Regions from separate parts of the Homo sapiens genome. Here region 1 is linked to region 2. Evidence: fine-mapped expression QTL. A gene starts in region 2. The other region holds a variant in brackets. All regions are shown on one strand. Distances are between the middles of the regions.

Region 1 (9,020 bases), 46 kb before region 2:
AATTATGCTTTCTAAAAAGCCTGAGCTTTAGACCAATTGCACATCTAACATTTCTGGTTCTTGTTGGTGACCACCCTAAGTTAACTAACTACCACTTGTTCTGAGTCTGAGAAGAGTCAATATGAAGATAAATGTAATTTCTCACCCAAAAAGTAGAGTTGCAGAACTTCTCCAGCATGATTCCTGGACTGCGTCTGGAACGAAGACTCTTCTATTAATATGATTGTGTTGTTTCTTCTTTACTTGTTTCATCAAAGAAAGTGGAACAGGAATTATCTACCATTCTGATGTTCTCCGTAAAGGATGACCTTTCATCCCAACCATTTAATCGTTAACCTTGCCTAGATGCATGTTACATTGAAACAGTGGATGGACATGTGACTAAAAAGCCCTAGGGACAGGGAGACTCACCAGTTCCCAAAGTACAAGAGGCCTCTGTAGGAGTGGCCATACATAAAAGGAACCACTGAAAGATGTCAACAGAGCTGGCCAACAAATCAAGAGTGCACAGTCTTTCATTTTCCTAAGGACATATGACCCACAAAGGGCAGCATCAGTAGAGGGGCAGGCACCCCTAAATGTGCAGTTTCGCTTCTGCTGCAAGATCTTAGAGTTTATAGAAATGTGAAATATCCTTCTTCCTTAGATTTTTAATTAAAAATATAGAATCTAAAACATGGTTTAAACATGATGTAAACTTTCTTTGAAGAAGTCAGGTTATAAAATAGCTTATCCAGTGTGAGCCTATATGTTATATACATAATACAGGCTTTCAAAAGTTCTATTTGCCTGAGAGGTAGTATGCCAAATGGGAATGAAGCCTTTGCCAGGCATTGTAAATATGATATCATGATAAAACATCAGGGCCAGAGGAGAGGGGTGATTCTGTAAACAGAGTGGTGGCATCAGTCGCTAGAAACTGTCATCGACCCAACCTTTTCTTTTTTTGTTATTGTTTTTTGTTTTTTGAGACAGGGTCTTGGTCTGTTGCCTGAGCTAGAGTGCAGTGTTGCCATCATGATTCATTGCAGCCTTGACCTCATGGGTTCAAGCGATCTTCCTGCCTCAGCTTCCTGAGTAGCTGGGACTACAGGCACATGCCAACAAGCCCAGCTAATTAAAAAAATGTTTTCTGTAGGGACGGGGTCTCACTATGTTGCCCAGGCTGGTCTCAAACTCCAGGCTTCAACAATCCTTCTGCCTTGGCCTCCCAAAGGGCTGGGATTGCAGGCATGAGCTACCGTGCCCCACCTGACCCAACCTTTTGTACTGTCACTTAAATTGCTTTAAGAACATGCTTTTTTCATGATATCATGAACCACCCATGCGGTATCCTAGCTAAAACATAACCACCCATGCAGTATCCTAGCTAAAAAAAATTGGCCTTAAATCTGGTCAAATTCTAGATCTAACTACCGGATTATAAGAAACACAGGAACATGCTAAAGGACTCCATTGGAATGCAATTGTCAAAATCCAGAATGTGGGAGATTCTATAGTGCAAATGATTCCATTTTTTAATAAATAAATTAAAAGAAGGAAAGGAGTCAAAGGAACTTACAAATTACAAGAGAATCAAGAGGCATATCAGCCAAATGTGAATTGTATGGACCTTGTTACTGATTTTAAAAGTCAAGTATACACATAAAAAAAATGAAAAGGCAGCATTCAGTGTGGGAGAAAATATTTGCAGACCATATAACTGATGAAGAGTTAATATCCACAATATACTATAAGGAACTCATACAACTCAATAGCAAACATACACTAACAAATTAAAAAGTGGGCAAAGGACTTGAACAGACACTTTTCCAAAGAAGACATATAAATGGCCAACAGGTATATGACAACTGAATCAACTTCACAAGTCATCTGGAAAACACAAATCAAAACCACAGTTAGATACCACCTCATACCTATTAGGATGGCTATTACAAAAAAAAAAAAAAAACAACAAGATAAGTGCTGGCAAGGGTGTGGAGAAAAGGGAACCCTAGTATACTGTTGATGGAAATGTAAATTGGTCTGACCATTATGAAAACATATGGCAGTTTCTCCATCATTTTCCATACCACTCACCAGAAGAGCCAGGAAAGGTCAGCTGTGGAACTAAGAGATCTCACTTGGGGCAGGGTGCACCTTTAGGCTGCATACTTCTCTTGGCACTGGTGGTAGGACTCGGAGTCCGGGGGAACTCTTGGTAAAACTTTGAGAAATATAAGGTCAAGGATTAACACCTAATTTTCTTTTTTTAATTTTTTTGTAGAGCCTCAAACTCCTGGGCTCAAGCGATCCATTCGCCTCGGCCTCCCAAACTGCTGGGATTACAGGCATGAGCCATCGTGTCTGGCCTAAACGTTCTAAGTAATCAAAAAAAGAGAGGGTGGAGAATCTAAATGTTCATCAAAACAAGTTGCTTAAAGTATAAAATATGTACTCATAGGGAATATTGAATGAGAAAAGCAAGTAAGGAGCCAGGAAGTCATGAATCTTTCCTAACAATAACTAAAAATCTGAACAAATAGAAAAATCAATAACTCTTCTTAGATCTGTAGAGAGATAAGGTTACAGGGCAAACTGAAGAGATAAACAAGAGAATATCAAAAATCACAATTTACTGGCGCAGAAATCTCAGCAGGGGCCGGGCGCGGTGGCTCACGCTTGTAATCCCAGCACTTTGGGAGGCCGAGGCGGGCGGATCACGAGGTCAGGAGATCGAGACCACAGTGAAACCCTGTCTCTACTAAAAATACAAAAAATTGGCCGGGCGTGGTGCCGGGCGCCTGTAGTCCCAGCTACTCGGAGATGCTGAGGCAGGAGAATGGCGTGAACCCGGGAAGCGGAGCTTGCAGTGACTTGAGATCACGCCACTGCACTCCAGCCTGGGCAACAGAGACACTGTCTCAAAAAAAAAAAAAAAAAAAAAAAGAAAAAAGAAAAGAAATCTCAGCAGGAACCAGGGCTAGGGCAGGAAAACCTGAACTGTAATTGAATTGCCGGAGGCCCAGTGTAGATAAGTTTGAGAGAGAAAAATTCCAGAGTGACTCAGCCATAAGGAGGGGATGATCTCCACACTTTCATGAGTTTACCCATAGGAATTCAAAGAGGTTCTCAAATATTGTTCTCTTTTTATTAGAGAAAAATCTCCTCCTGCTTCCATGTCCCTGGCAGAGGGGATAGGAAAAGTAACCATTTGAAATATACCTGGACACTCTATTCTTCTCTTCTAAACAAAGTCTGCCCTTGGGAAAAACTGTTTAAATAGAGCCTAATGCTCTTGATTTATAGGAGCCTAAATGATGCCGGAGAAGGGAAATAAGAACTCCAGTCTCTTCTAGCCTTCCACATGAAAACTGAAAATACCCAGCTGCAGCCCACTCTAGCCATCACGTCCCACCTAACAGGGATCGGGGCAGATAGGAACTGAGAAGCACTTGTGAAATTCAGTCTAGAGACACAGGTTTACTAAAAGACTGAGACCTCTTCACAGAACTATAGAACTCTTCCTCTCCCCCTCCCCCACTGTATACCACACTACTAAAGGTCTAGTTACAGCACTTCCTTTTACTCCGTATATCCTGTCCAGCTATGAAGAAAACATTGCCAGGCATACTAAAAGGCAAAAAAAAAAAAAGAAAAAAAAAAGGCTTTAAAGAGACAGAGAGCAAGCCTCAGAACCAAACTCAGATATGACTGGGATGTTGGAATTATCAGACCAGAAATTTAAAACAACTATGATCACAATGCCAAGGGCTCTAATGGATAAAGTAGACAGCATACAAGAACAAATGGGTCGATGTAAGCAGAGAGTTTAAATTCTAAGAAAGAACTAAAAAGAAATAAATACTAGAGATCAAAAACACTGTAATAGAAATAAAGAATGCCTTTGATGGGCTTTTTGGTAGACTGAACAAGGCTGAAAACAGAATATTTGAACTTGAAAATAACTGCCAAAACTGCAAAAATAAGTAAGACTATATAAACAGAATCTCCAAGAACTATGGGACAACTACAAAGGGTATAACATATGTGTAATGGAAATAGCAGGAAGAGAATAACCAGAGAAAGGAACAGAATAAATATTTGAAGCAATAATGAAAGAGAATTTCCCTCATACTAATTTCAGACACCAAATCACAGATCACAGAAGTTGAGAGAACACCAAGTAGAACAAATGCCAAACAAACAAACAAAAGCCCTACAACCAGGCATGCATATATAAGTTGCAGGAAATCAAAGATAAAAAATTCTGAATGAAGCCCGGGGAAAAAGACCTTACTTGTAGAGGAGAAAAGATGAAAATTATGTCCAACTTTTCCTCAGCAAGCATGCAAGCAAGAAGAGAATGGAATGAAATATTTACAGTGGTGAGAGAAAAAAGCCACCAACAGCCAGCATTCTGTACCCACAAAATTATTCTTTAAAAGTAAAGAGAAGCCAGGCACAGTGGTGCGTGCCTATAGTCCCAGCTATTCAGGAGGCTGAGGTGGAGGGATTGCTTGATCCAAGAGTTTGAGTCCAGCCTGGGCAGCATAGTGAGACACTCTCTCTCTCTCTCTCTCTCTCTCTCTCTGTCTCTCTCTCTCTCTATATATATATATAAAATAATAATAAATACATAAATACATTCTCACACAAACAAAGACTGAGGGAATTTGTTGCCAGTAGACCTGCCTTGCAAGAAATGTTAAAAGAATTCCTATAGAGGAGTGGTCCCCAACCTTTTTGGCACCAGAGACCAATTTTGTGGGGAATGGTTTCAGGATGAAACTGTTCCACCTCAGATCATCAGGCATTAGATCTCATAAGGGTGTGCAACCTAGATCCCTCACATGCACACTTCACAATAGGGCTCACACTCCTATGAGAATCACATGCCTCTGCTGATCTGACAGGAGGTGGAGCTAAGAAGCCTGCTGCTCACCACCTGCTGTGCAGCCCTAACAGGCCTTGGACCAG[C/T]ACCAGTTTGTGGCCCAGGTGCTGGGGACCCCTGCTTAAGAGAGAAGGAAAATGATATAGGTCAGAAATTTGGATTTACATAAAGAAAGGAAGAGCACTGGAGAAGAAATAAGGTGAAATAAATTATTTAATTCTAACTGACCTAAAAAATAGCAGTTCACTCAAAATAATAGCAACAATGTATTCAATCATGCATATTTCTGTGTATATTTTTAAATGCTTATGTATAACAAAAATGAATGACAGCAAAGACATAAGGGATGGGAGGGAGAATTAGGATTATTTTGTTATTATAAGGTACTCGCACTACCTGTAAAGTGCATAGTGTTCTTTGAAAGTGGACTTGGATTCATTGTAAATGTGTATTTAAAACTCTATGGCTGGGATCCTGGGCACTTTGGGAGGCTGAGGTGGGCAAATCACAAGGTCAGGAGTTAGAGACGATCCTGGCTAACATGGTGAAACCCCGTCTCTACTAAAAATACAAAAATTACCTGGGCGTGGCGGCACATGCCTATAATCCAGCTACTCAGGAGGCTGGAGAATCACTTGAACCCGGAAGGTGGAGGTTGCAATGAGCCGAGACGGTGCCACTGCACTCCAGCCTGGCGACAGAGCTAGACTCCGTCTCAAAAAGAAAACCAAAAACAAACAAACAAACAAAAAACCTCTAGGGCAACTGCTAAAAATGTAAAAAAGAAAAAGAGGAAGTATAACTGATATGCTAAGAAAGAAGAGAAAATGTAATCATATAAAACAGTCAACTAAACCACAAAAGTGAAAAAAAGAGTGGAAGAAAAAATAGGAAAAGAGAACAAAGACAACAAAGAGAAATAGTCACCACAAACATGGTAGATAATAATCCAACTGTATCAATCATCATATTAAACATCAATAGTCATAATATACCAGGCAATGGAATATTATTCAGTGCTAAAAAGAAATGAACTATTGAGCCATGAAAAGATGTGTAGGAAACTTACATGCATATTATTAAGTGAAAGAAGTCAACCTGAAAAGGCTACATACTGTATGATTCCAACTAGACGGCATTCTGGAAAAGTCAAAACTAGGGAGACAGTAAAAAGATCAGAGGTTGCCAGGGGTTAGCAGGGAGGGAGGAATGAATAGGTGGAGCTCAGAGCATTTTTAGGGCAGTGAAATTATTCTGTATGATAACTATAGTTGTGAATAGATGTCATTATAAATTTGTCCAAACTCATAGAATAGAGAAAACCAATAGTGAACCTTAGTGTAAACTATGGGCTTTGTGTGATAGTGTTATGTCAATGTAGGTTCATCAGTTGACACAAATGTACCACTCTGGTGGGGGCTGGTGATAAACTGATGATGAGGGAGGCCATACATAATGGGGGCAGGGCATTATGTGAAGTCTCTATACTTTCTGTTCAATTTTGCTGTGAACCTAAAACTGCTCTAAGAAATAAAGTCTATTTTAAAAAAGCAAGTGGTAGAATAGTGTGATTCCATTTTGATTTAAAAAATTATGTATTTACACTTAACAGATTCAAACAATATAAACGTTGATTCAAATAAACTATTCACAGTGGTTATTCTTGGGGTGGGGGAAGGCAGGGGCTTCTGAGCCTTTCTTTTTTACATTAATGAATGTAAAAAATGAAATGAATGAATATGAAAGTTCCTGCAGCCCAAAATGGGTTCTAAAAGGACTGACAGAAGCATTGCAGAACCATGATCTGTAATCTTCTGGAATCACTGAGAATCATAAAAGCATCAAAAGATGGGACGAATGCCTTGATATTTTTAATAGGGATAGGAAGGCTGTACAATGAAACACTGCAAAACATAAATAAAGGAGTCAGGAAACCTGAATTCTAAACTTAGCTCTGCTGGTCCTATGTAAAAAGATTGATCCCAAATCTCCTCTTAATGGTCTCAAAACATCTCTTCTTAATGACTCAGTGTGGGTGTGCTGCAGTGTAAATCATGGATTGCACAGAGATAATTCAATAGAAAAGAATGACTCATCTACATGATTCAGGAGAAAATATGCTGTATCATTTCTATTTAGCAAGCAAATGTTAACTAATTAAGTTTTGCACTTAAATAACTTTGAAAAATCTACAAAAGTTCAATGTCCAAGATAAGCAGAGTGGTCCACTTTTGGTTAATCATTAGAGATAGATTTAATAAGGATTTTCATTCTTGTGTAGTATCTTGGAACACATATCCAAATTTAAGTGAGAACAGTAAAAACATTGTTTTCCCTTCACATTTTTTAAATTGAGCTAGTAATTCATGTTCCTATAAAAAATTAAAAACTGTAACTAGGAAATAATAAAATAATTACTCCCAAATTCTCCCCCCAAGAATAATATTAACATTTTTATACTTCCAAAACAAACAAAAATCTTTTTAGAGGCCGGGCGCAGTGGCTCATGCCTGTAATCCCAGCCCTTTGGGAGGCCGTGGCAGATGGATTGCCTGAGGTTGGGAGTTCGAGACCAGCTTGACCAACATGGAGAAACCCCATTTCTACTAAAAATACAAAATTAGCCAGGCGTGGTGGTGCATGCCTGCAATCCCAGCTACTCGGGAGGCTGAGGCAGGAGAATGGCTTGAACCTGGGAGGTGGAGGCTGTGGTGAGCCAAGATCATGCCATTGCACTCCAGTCTGGGCAACAAGAGCGAAACTCTGTCTCAAAAAAAAAAAAAAAAAAAATATATATATATATATATATATATATATATATATATATATATATATATATATATATATATAGTTTTGGAATATCCAGGGACCAAAAAAGACATACAGATAATTGAATTAACATGAATTTTAAAAAAAACTTTCTTCTATTGTAAAACTATTCTTCCTGTAATTATTAAAAATTGAAATACAGTGAAATTCTTTTGAATAAATTCAAAGAATATGTTAAATAATGAATGAACTCATTGAATTAGACTTAGGTTCTATAAAAAAGAGTTAACTATTCAAAGTTTTAGATAATTTTTACAAAGAGTATATACTTTTACAAATAATGAAAGTTATCAGTGGTACAGAATGATGTTCCTTGTATATTTAAAGGATAAACTTTTAACTTGTGACAAACTACCGCAAATGGGCTGAATTGTTCCGTATTTTTTGGGCAACAGGATATCAACATAGAAAATAAATGATTAGGCCGAGCACGGTGGCTCTTGCCTGTAAATGCAGCACTTTGGGAGGCTGAGGCGGGTGGATCACTTGCGGTCAGGAGTTCCAGACCAGCCTGGAGAACATGGCAAAACCCCATCTCTACTAAAAAATACAAAAATTAGCCAGGCGTGGTGGTGAGCTCCTGTAATCCCAGCTACTCAGGAGGCTGAGGCAGAGAATCACTTGAACGTAGGAGGCAGAGGTTGCAGTGAGCCGAAATTGTGCCATTGCACTCCAGCCTGGGTGACAGAACAAGACTCTGTCAAATTAAAAAAAAGAAAGAAAGAAAGAAAGAAAGATTAATTTAGGTCTTTACTTCATATCATCCCATACAGTACATCCTTGATAGGTCATAAAATACCAGAAAAAAATGAACTAACATAAAAAGATGCACTAGACAAAAAAATACTCTTCTGAGTACTGGAAACAAAGGATGATATTATAAAAGAGAAATATGTATACATAATTTTTAAAGAGAATGTTATAAAACAAATATTAATATTGAAAGCAGCCAAACTGAGAATATATCTGATATAAATAACATGGGGGGCAATATAAACAGTAAATTATCACATGGAAAAACATATAGATAGCTTCACAAGCAATTAAATACAAGTAAATTATCAAACATTTCGGAAAGAAACTGTTAATAGTGGTTAATTGCAGAAGAGCTAGAAGACTGAAAAAAATAAGCTAAAAAAAACCCCACACATATAAGGGCTGGATGCAATGTCTCACGCTTATGTAATCTCAACACTTTGGAAGGCCAAAGCAGGAGGATCACTTGAGACCAGCCTTGGCAACATAGCAAGACCCCAACTCTACAAAAAAAAAAAAAAAAAAAAAAAAAAAAAAATTAGCCAGTTGTGGTGGTGCATTT
Region 2 (9,020 bases):
ATGTTGCCTGGGCTGGTGTCGAACTCATGAGCTCAAGTGATCTGGCAGCCTCAGCCTCTCCAATTACTGGGATTACAGGTGTAAGCCACTGCACCCGGCTGATGTTTACATTTTCAAAAGATTTAAAAATAAAATAAGTGATAAAGATCAAATGTGTCCAGCAAGGCTGAAAATATATATACTATGCAGCTCTTCACAGAAAAAGTTTATTGACCCCTGAAATAAATGAAAAACTGGCCATGTGTTGAAAATGGGTGAAGATGAGTGATGCATACATGGGGCTTCATTATCCTATTTGCTCTACTTTTGTATATGTTTATTTTTCCATAATAAAATTTTTTTTTAATTTTTCTGAACCTGAGATGATGGAAATGTCTGTGCTTCCCATTAAAACAGGTTCAGAGTACAACAGAAACTTTGAGGGAAAAATAGATAATGTTCAAAAGTAAAAAAGATAAAATTCCTCATGATGAAGTCTCTGAAGTCATCTTTAAGTTAATGGTTTAAAAAAATTAAAATTTTGCTAAGTTCAATAAAAAATCAAGTCATTGAGTAAGTACTATTGTCGACACTTGACTTAAAATGTGACCCACTTGGGGAGAGGGAGAGACTAGATCATAATTTTCCAGTAGGGTTTCTAATTGGTTGTTTCTGAAAGCATTATGAGGGATGCTTAGAGATCACAAGGGCTTCTGAGATAAGCACACAGGATTAATTTTCAGACTCTTAAAAGGGTAGCCAACGGTCATTCACTATCTGATTTCTCTTACCTCCTCTTTCTGCATTCACAGCTGATTCCACTGAATCAACACAAACTTCCATGAGAAATCCATTTGCTGCTCCTAAAATACATGGAGAATGGTAAGAGTTCATAAAGGTTCTATCCATCCAGACCAATTTACCACAAAGGGTTTACATTCTGCTGCCAAAATGCAAATGTCCAATAACAGGTAATAGATAAGTACACTAGGGCCCATGAATGCAATAAAATATCACATTAATTATTGAATTGATGCCTATAGACTGAAATAGGTACACAGACAGATGTATAAAAAATTATACTGAGGAAAATGTCTATCGAATGCCAAATTAATCTTCCTAAAACATAGACCTCATCATCACATTCCAGCTGAGATTCTTACAATGCTTCTCAATGCCTGCAGAATATATTTAAACTTCTTTATAAGGAATATAGGTTTAAAAGCAGGACAGACTTCAAATCCATGTCCCACCAACTATTTAGTGTGAGATCCTAGATTAGTTACTTAAGTTTTCTATAAAACAAGGTAGATTTTAGTATGTACCTCAGAGTAGTGAGGATTAAATTAGATAATTCATGTAAAGTATATAGTCTCAAGAATCAAAAAGTATTAGTTATCTGGCCGGGTGTGATGGCTCATGCCTGTAATCCCAGCACTTTGGGAGGCCGAGGTGGGTGGATCACATGAGGTCAGGAATTGGAGATCAGCCTGGCCAACATGGTAAAACCCTGTCTCTACTAAAAATACAAAAATTAGCCAGGCATCGTGGCATGCGCCTGTAATCCCAGCTACTTGGGAGGCTGAGGCATGAGAATCGCTTGAACCCAGGAGGTGGAGGTTGCAGTGAGCCAAGATTGTGCTACTGCACTCCAGCCTGGGTGACAGAGTGATACTCTGTCTCATTCCTTCTTATGCTTCCAGATCTCTCCAGTCCCTACCGCTGGCTCCCCAATGCCTTCTCCTCAACCCAGAGTTCCTTCTGGCTTCATCTCTGAATAAAATTTTTCAAGGAACATTTCCATGATTTTTTCTGTCTCCCAAAGTAGAAAATTTTATGTCCCTCTTTTGAACTCATTTAACTCTTCATGAGTTATGAAACCCCAATTGTTCCTTCTTAAAATATGAATTACTTTCTACCTTTTATTATTTATGCAGATAAATATCTGATCACTTCTACTTGACTTAGAGTTCCTAAGTTTGTTTTTTTTTTTTTTTTTTTTTTTTTGATACAGAGTCTTGCTCTGTCGCCCAGGCTAGAGTGCAGTGGCATGATCTCGGCTCACTGCAACCTCCGCCTCCCAGGCTCAAGCAATTCTTGTGCCTCAGCCTCCTCAGTAGCTGGGACTACAGGTATGTGCCACAACACCTGGTTAATTTTGTATTTTTTGTAGAGATGGGGTTTCGCCATGTTGCCCATGCTGGTCTCAAACTCCTGCACTCAAGCGATCTGCCAGCCTCGGCCTCCCAAAGTGCTGGGATTATAGGCATGAGCCACCACGTCTGGCCTCCTAAGTAAGGTCTTTATGTGAGAAATCTTTATCATCACCCACACCAAGCACAGTATCTACCATGGTACACAATAATCAAATATTTACTAAAAGCTGAATAATTACAACAAAATTAATGTATTTATATTACAAAGTGTGATGTAAACAGAGTTTTGAGTTTTTTTCCGGGAGCACATAATTTAAAAAAATGAACGAAACAATGCACACTTCATGTAATGACACTTACTAGAATGTTCCTCACATACTGGTAATGGTCACTTCTGGTGGGGTGTGATTTGAAATTATTTTTATTTTCTTCTTTTTACTTTTCTTTATTGCTTTATTTTTTCTACCCAATATTGCTTTTATAATTTAAAAAAGCAATTTTTACTTTGAAAAACAAATAAAACAAAAACCTATCATCTGCTAACATCAAACTGCAATTGCCTTACTTATTTAAGACTATCAGTCCCTGTCCGGCGCGGTGGCTCACGCCTGTAATCCCAGTACTTTGGGAGGCCAAGGTGGGCGGATCTGAGGTCAGGATTTTGAGACCAGCCTGGCCAACATGGCGAAACCCCATCTCTACTAAAAGTATATAAATTAGCCGGGCGTGGTGGCGGGCGCCTGTAATCCCAGCTATTCAGGAGGCTGAGGCAGGAGAATTGCTTGAACCTGGGAGGTGGAGGTTGCAGTGAGCTGAGATCAGGCCACTGCACTCCAGCCTGGGCGACAAGAGCCAGACTCCGTCTCAAAAAAAAAAAAAAAAAAAAAATACTATCAGTCCCAAACTGTGAAAGGGTTAAGTGTCAATCTATGCTCTTAACCAACAGCTCTGCATTATTAACTCCATGAGTTTCCTGGTAGCTACCAGACCAGCTGTCAGATCAGTGGCACTGGCCGATGCTGATGCTGCCGGGGGACTATTTGCCTCACACAAGAAAGGACCCTAGGCAGGAGAAGATGGAGAGATGTATAAAAAAGGCTATGACAGAAGGCAGAGCAAGGCAGTTGTCCCAAGCAACAAAGTTATAGGATCAAAGGAGAAGCAGCAGCAGTTCTCAAAGTGTAGTAGTCCAGAGAGCTTTGGGAGCCTCTGAGACTTTTCAGAGTCTGCAGGGCTACAACCGTTTTCTTAATAATTCTAACACTTTATTTGACTTTTTCACTTTAATTCTCTCACAAGTGAGAGGCGTTTTCTTTTTTGAGGCAGAGTCTCACTCTGTCACCCAAGATGGAGTGCATTGGCGCGATCTCGGCTTACTGCAACCTCCGTGAAGAGGCGTTTTCAAGAGGCTACTTGACATGTTAGACTGAATGAAGCAGCGGGCATGAGAATCCAGCTGTCTTCCATTAAGATATACTGAAGAAACTTGCAAAAATATATTTCCACTCTTTTGCTTTTTTTGTTGTTGTTGTTTAGGAATATTTCTTTTTCAAAAAAATATTATGTCAATATGTAATGGGTTTACTATGGTTATTTTCTAATCAATATTTTAAAATTTTGTTTTAATTTTATTTTTATTTTTTTGAGACGGAGTCTCGCTCTGTCGCCCAGGGTGGAGTGCAGTGGCGCGATCTCGGCTTACTGCAACCTCCGCCTCCCGGGTTCAAGTGATTCTCCTGCCTCAGCCTCCCGAGTAACTGGTATTACAGGCGCCTGCCACCATGCCCAGCTAATTTTTGTATTTTTAGTAGAGACGGGGTTTCACCATGCTGGCCAGGCTGGTCTCGAACTCCTGAGCTCAGATGATCTGTCCCCCTCGGCCTCCCAAAAAAAAATTTGTTTTAATTTCTAATACAGTCAAAATAGATAGATGTAATCCACATAAAGAAAAAATCTTTGAGGATTCTTGATAACTTTTAGGAAGGTTCCTCTTCACGGAGGAAGAGGGACTTGCCAAATTCTCTGGCACCTGCCATGCCATGCTACCCTGGCACTCAGGAAGAACTCGGGTCTTGGAGCAGCCACAAGCTCGGCCACTTGGTAGCTGCGTGACTTTGGGGACCAAGCCCCGTCCCCGCCGTGGCAGCTACAGGTAACTGCAGGTTAGGAACTGGGCTCCGCGCTCGACAATTAACTATCCCAGCGGAGTACTGGCTGCTGGTGCGGGCGGTACTGGCATCCTCGTGTGGCGACGGAAAAAACGTGAAGCTGAAGTTAACCAACTTGCACAAGGTCGCAGGGCCGTTATGAGGGGACCCCGGGACTCGAACCTTGGCTCCACAGCTGAGCCATTCTCGCTACCTGCCCCTCGTCACGCCCTCCGTTTCCACACCTTTAACGCCTCAAAGATAGAAGGTGCCGCCCAAGGGGCTGGAAGGAGCTGAGGAAACGACTCCAGAAGAAATCACCACTGACTACGACTCCCGCCGGCCCGCCCCGGGGAGCCTTCGGCCGACCGTCCCCTCCCCCGCCACCTTCCGCACCGGCCTTCCCGGACGGTATCCGCGCTCGTTTTCGCTCAGAGGAGGCCCCCTGCCTTTTCATGCTCCACGCGTTCCTCCCTCGTGCGCCTGCAGTTTCCACTTGGAATTTGGGCTCCGGCGCGCACCAGCTAAGAAGCGCGTCAACAGCTGCGCGCGCCCGTGCGCGCGTCCCCGACACCTACGCCCCAGCAGCCCCCGCGAAAGCGGAGTCGCAACGCAGGCGCACTTCTGTTCGCTCCGGTCCCCAGAGAAGGCGGGGCTCCCGCTGCCCGACCCGGAAGTGCTTCTCTTTTCCTTGGCGGAGGAGGGAGACCACAGAGCCCTGGGTTGTGGAAGAGGTGGCTGTTCCCTGTCATCAGTATGCAGCGATTGCTCTTTCCGCCGTTGAGGGCCTTGAAGGGGAGGCAGTATCTGCCGCTCCTGGCTCCTAGGGCAGCGCCTAGAGCACAGGTACCGCACTGCAGCGGACTCCGAGTCGCGGGAGCGGGGATGGAGTGAAAGGGCCGGGATAAAGATAATGTAGAGCCCCACATCACGTTTCCGGAGCTCCTTACAGTGCACTCACAACGCATAGGTTCAGATCAGAGCCCCTAGGTTCAGATCTGGAACATTGACCTGCTGTGTGGTATTGGCCAAGTTAATTAAACTTTCTGTTCTTCAGTTTCCTTATCTGTAAAATGGGGATAACAATACCTACTTTAAGGTTTGTTATGAGGATTACATTCTTTAATATACATCAGGCCTTTAGCACATGGTAAAAGCTGAGTAATTTTTACCCATATAGTTTATTTTTGCTTAAAAAGTTCCAAGTAGTCAGATGAGGAAGTATTACTGCATCCTACAGAGAAGGAAATTGAGGCTTAAAGTTACTTTTCTAAAGGTGACTCAGTTAATCAGAAATAGGAAACCGAGCATGGATCTTTGGACTCACAGGGATATAGTAAGAAGAGGGCATGCATTTGCTTAACTAGTAATTATTGAGTGGTTATTATATATTAGGAACTGGAAAAAGAAAGATAAATATTACAAGACTCCTGCCCTGGAGGAAGTCAGTTTATTCATTTGCGAAATCCTTATCATGGTCTCATTATATAAAGGAACAGTGTTAGAAACAAAGCTAGCAGAAGGGAGAGAGCAAGACTGACCGGACACTGCCACCCCAAAGCTCATAGTTTAGTGGGAGATACAAACAGATGAACCTGAAGGTAGAGTGATGTGCTGCATAACAACATTTTGGTCAACAACAGGCCACAGATACAGTCATGGTCCCATAAGATTATAATGGAGCTGCCTTTCCAAGTGTACCTTTTTTTTAAAAAAAAATCTTTTTCTCTAAATTTCTTTTTTAGAGACAGCGTTTTACTTTGTCACCCAGGCTGGAGTGCTGTGGCATGATTATAACTCACTGCAGCCTCCAGCTTGGAAATCCTGGCCTCAAGCATCCTCTTACCTCAGTCACTTAAGTAGCTAAGACTACAAGTGTGTGCCACTGTGCCTAATTTTTGAAAAAATAGAGATAGGGGGTCTCGCTACATTGCCCAGGCTGGTCTCGAACTACTGGCCTCAAGTGATCCTCTCACCTTGGCCTCCCAAAGCCTTGGGATTATAGGCTTGAGCCGTTGCACCTGGCCCCATTTTTAAATCTTTTATACCATATTTTTACTGTAATTTTTCTATGTTTAGATAAACAAATACCATTGTGTTACAGTATTCGGTACATAATATGCCATACAGATTTATAGCCTAAGAGCAATAAGTCATACCATATAGCTCAGGGGTGTAGTAGGCGATACCATCTAGATTTCTGTAAGTACTTTTTTTTTTGAGAGATGGAGTCTCACTTCATCGCCTAGGCTGGAGTGCAGTGGTGAGACCTTGGCTCACTGCAACCTCTGCCTCCCAGGTTCAAGTGATCCTGCCACCTCAGCCTCTCAAATAGCTGGGATTACAAGCATACACCACCATGCCCAGCTAATTTTTGTATTTTTGGTAAAGATGGGGTTTCACCATTTTGGCCAGGCTGGTCTTGAATTCCTGACCCAAGTGATCTCCCTGCCTCTGCCTCCCAAAGTGCTGGGATTACAGGTGTGAATCACTACACCCAGCCTTTAGATTTGTGTAAGTACATTCTATGAGGTTCACACAATGATGAAATTGCTTAAGAATGCATTTCACAGAACATGTGCCCCTGTTGTTAAGTGATGCTTGACTGTACATTACAGTGTATTAAGGGCTTTCCAGTGTGCTGTGGGAGTGACCTATTGCAGACCTTGAAGAGCCTGGGAATACATCCCAGAGGAGGTGACATGTAAGCGGAGATCTGCAGTAGGTATTATTAATCAGGGGAAAGGAAGTGTACAAGCCAGAGAGAAATGTTGAAAGACCTAGAGGTGAAAGAAAATATTCCATATCTGTAAGTAGAGTGAAGTCTGAGGGAAGTATTCAGAGATGAGAAGATTCATGTAGTTGGGGATAGGTTTGAGTGAGGCTAGATTTGAAAACCAATTGGAAAACCAGTTGGAAGGCTGATGCAGTAATCCAGATAAGAGATGATGACTTAACAAGACATGGCTGTGGGGATGCTATGGTACTTCGCGCTAATCAGAATGGGGTTGAGTGTGGGTAGCAGCCATTCCCTGTTTCTCCAGTTGTAATTTGTCTATCTTGATCTTTAGTGTGATTGCATCAGGCGCCCTTTGAGGCCAGGGCAATACAGCACCATCTCTGAAGTAGCTTTGCAATCTGGAAGGGGTACAGTGTCCCTTCCCTCAAAGGCTGCTGAGCGGGTGGTGGGCCGATGGCTCCTGGTCTGCAGTGGAACAGTGGCTGGAGCAGTTATTCTTGGTGGAGTAACTAGGTAAGTAATTTGCTCGTAGTGAGTCAGGTATTTGGATCATCAGTAGAAGCACAGGTTGACTGAGGAGAAAGGATTTTTTTTTTTTTTTTTTTTGAGACAGAGTCTTGCTCTGTTGGCCAGGCTGGAGTGCAGTGGTGTGATCTCGGCTGACTGCAACCTCCGTCTCCTGAGTTCAAGCGATTCTCCTGCCTCAGCCTCCCAAGTAGCTGGGACTAGGCGCGTGCCACCATATCTGGCTAATTTTTTGTATTTTTAGTAGAGACAGGGTTTCACCATGTTGGCCAGGCTGATCCAAACTCCTCACCTCAGGTGATCTGCCCACCTCGGCCTCCCAAAGTGCCAGGATTACAGGCATGAGCCACCATGCCCAGCTGGAGAAAGGAATTTTACAGAGCATCTAGTCTAGCTCCCTCATTGTATAGATGGAGAAACCGAGGCCTTAAAGAAGGAACATGTCTGATGGCTTGCCCTGCCATAGAACAGTTGAGTGTTTTATTAGTAGGAGCCTTCTATAAAGACTGGTTTATGTCTTAACTGGTACCTGTGCATTGTTTATGTATCTTTTCTCTTTCAATCAGAGTCCAAGTTTGTCTCAAAACTTTTTTTACAGTTTGTTTGAATTAAACCCAAAGAAGTTCTGTACATCACAATTGGTTCATGTTTCTTAGGTTTGTTTAAATCTATCAAGAGACTATAGATTTAGACACTCCTCCCTTTCCCCCTCTTCTAGTTGCTGAGGAAACTCTAGTCATTTGTCCTATGGTTATGCACAGTTTAGATTTTGCTGACTGCATAACTGTGTGATATTTAACATGTTCCTTTGTCCCGTCTATTTCCTGTGAATGAGTAGTTGGTTGATCAGATTCAAATTAGGGATGAGGGAGCAAAATACTTCAGTAGGTGAATAGAACATTCGTGAATATCTGGTGTCTATTATAGATGTTAACAGCCATTAATTACCATTGCCTAGATCCATTATTTCATTAGCGTAGCAAAATTATAATATTTTATTAGCTCAACTCTAAAAAGCTTTCCCTCATCATCAGTTTGGATATCCCAAGGTATAGTTTGTATAGGAAAGGCAGGATACATACTTGATTCTTCTTTCCCTTTATTTACCAATTTTCAAAATAATAAATTGGTCCCCCAAATCCTCCAAAGGCAACAAATAAAGGATTTGAATTTTTAAGGCTCATTATGAGATCATAGGTTCAAACACACTCGATAATGTTTCGGTCCGTTGTGATGATGGTGTTAGTGATTTGCTCAGATTGTCCCATCTTTAGTCAGTGGGCATCTCCTGAAATTGGCTCTAGTGACTTTTTGGCAGGGCCCTAATTACCTTTGATAGTTTCCTTACTTTCTAGTATGACAAGATGTTCCGAGCTCATCTTGTGCATTTCTTGCCTCAGGCCTAAAATCAGGCTTTTACTCTAGGAATCCTAATTCCTTTTGGTAAAAAAGTTTCTAGTTTTAATCAAATGT

Alleles and levels. Positions count from the first base shown, and alleles are read on the strand shown. Sizes are in standard deviations (SD) of each study's normalised expression.
For the expression in subcutaneous fat of the gene that starts at base 4,854 in region 2, C is the high allele of the variant in region 1 and T is the other (small effect, 0.38 SD a copy in TwinsUK).

What was found.
Region 1: its variant is fine-mapped to the expression of CUTC in subcutaneous fat (TwinsUK, PIP 0.95).

Annotation. Positions count from the first base shown.
Region 1 is chr10:99,774,003-99,783,022 of GRCh38, reverse strand. It overlaps ABCC2 (ATP binding cassette subfamily C member 2), which reads right to left and starts at 383. Exons shown (of 32, transcript NM_000392.5): 1 at 146-383. The coding sequence starts at 178. The variant C/T (reference allele first, on the strand shown) is at 4,960.
Region 2 is chr10:99,728,068-99,737,087 of GRCh38, reverse strand. It overlaps CUTC (cutC copper transporter), which reads right to left and starts at 4,854. Exons shown (of 9, transcript NM_015960.3): 1 at 4,679-4,854; 2 at 771-842. The coding sequence starts at 4,739. COX15 (cytochrome c oxidase assembly factor COX15) reads left to right here and starts at 4,961. Exons shown (of 9, transcript NM_078470.6): 1 at 4,961-5,128; 2 at 7,354-7,535. The coding sequence starts at 5,039. RefSeq lists an enhancer at 5,040-5,259.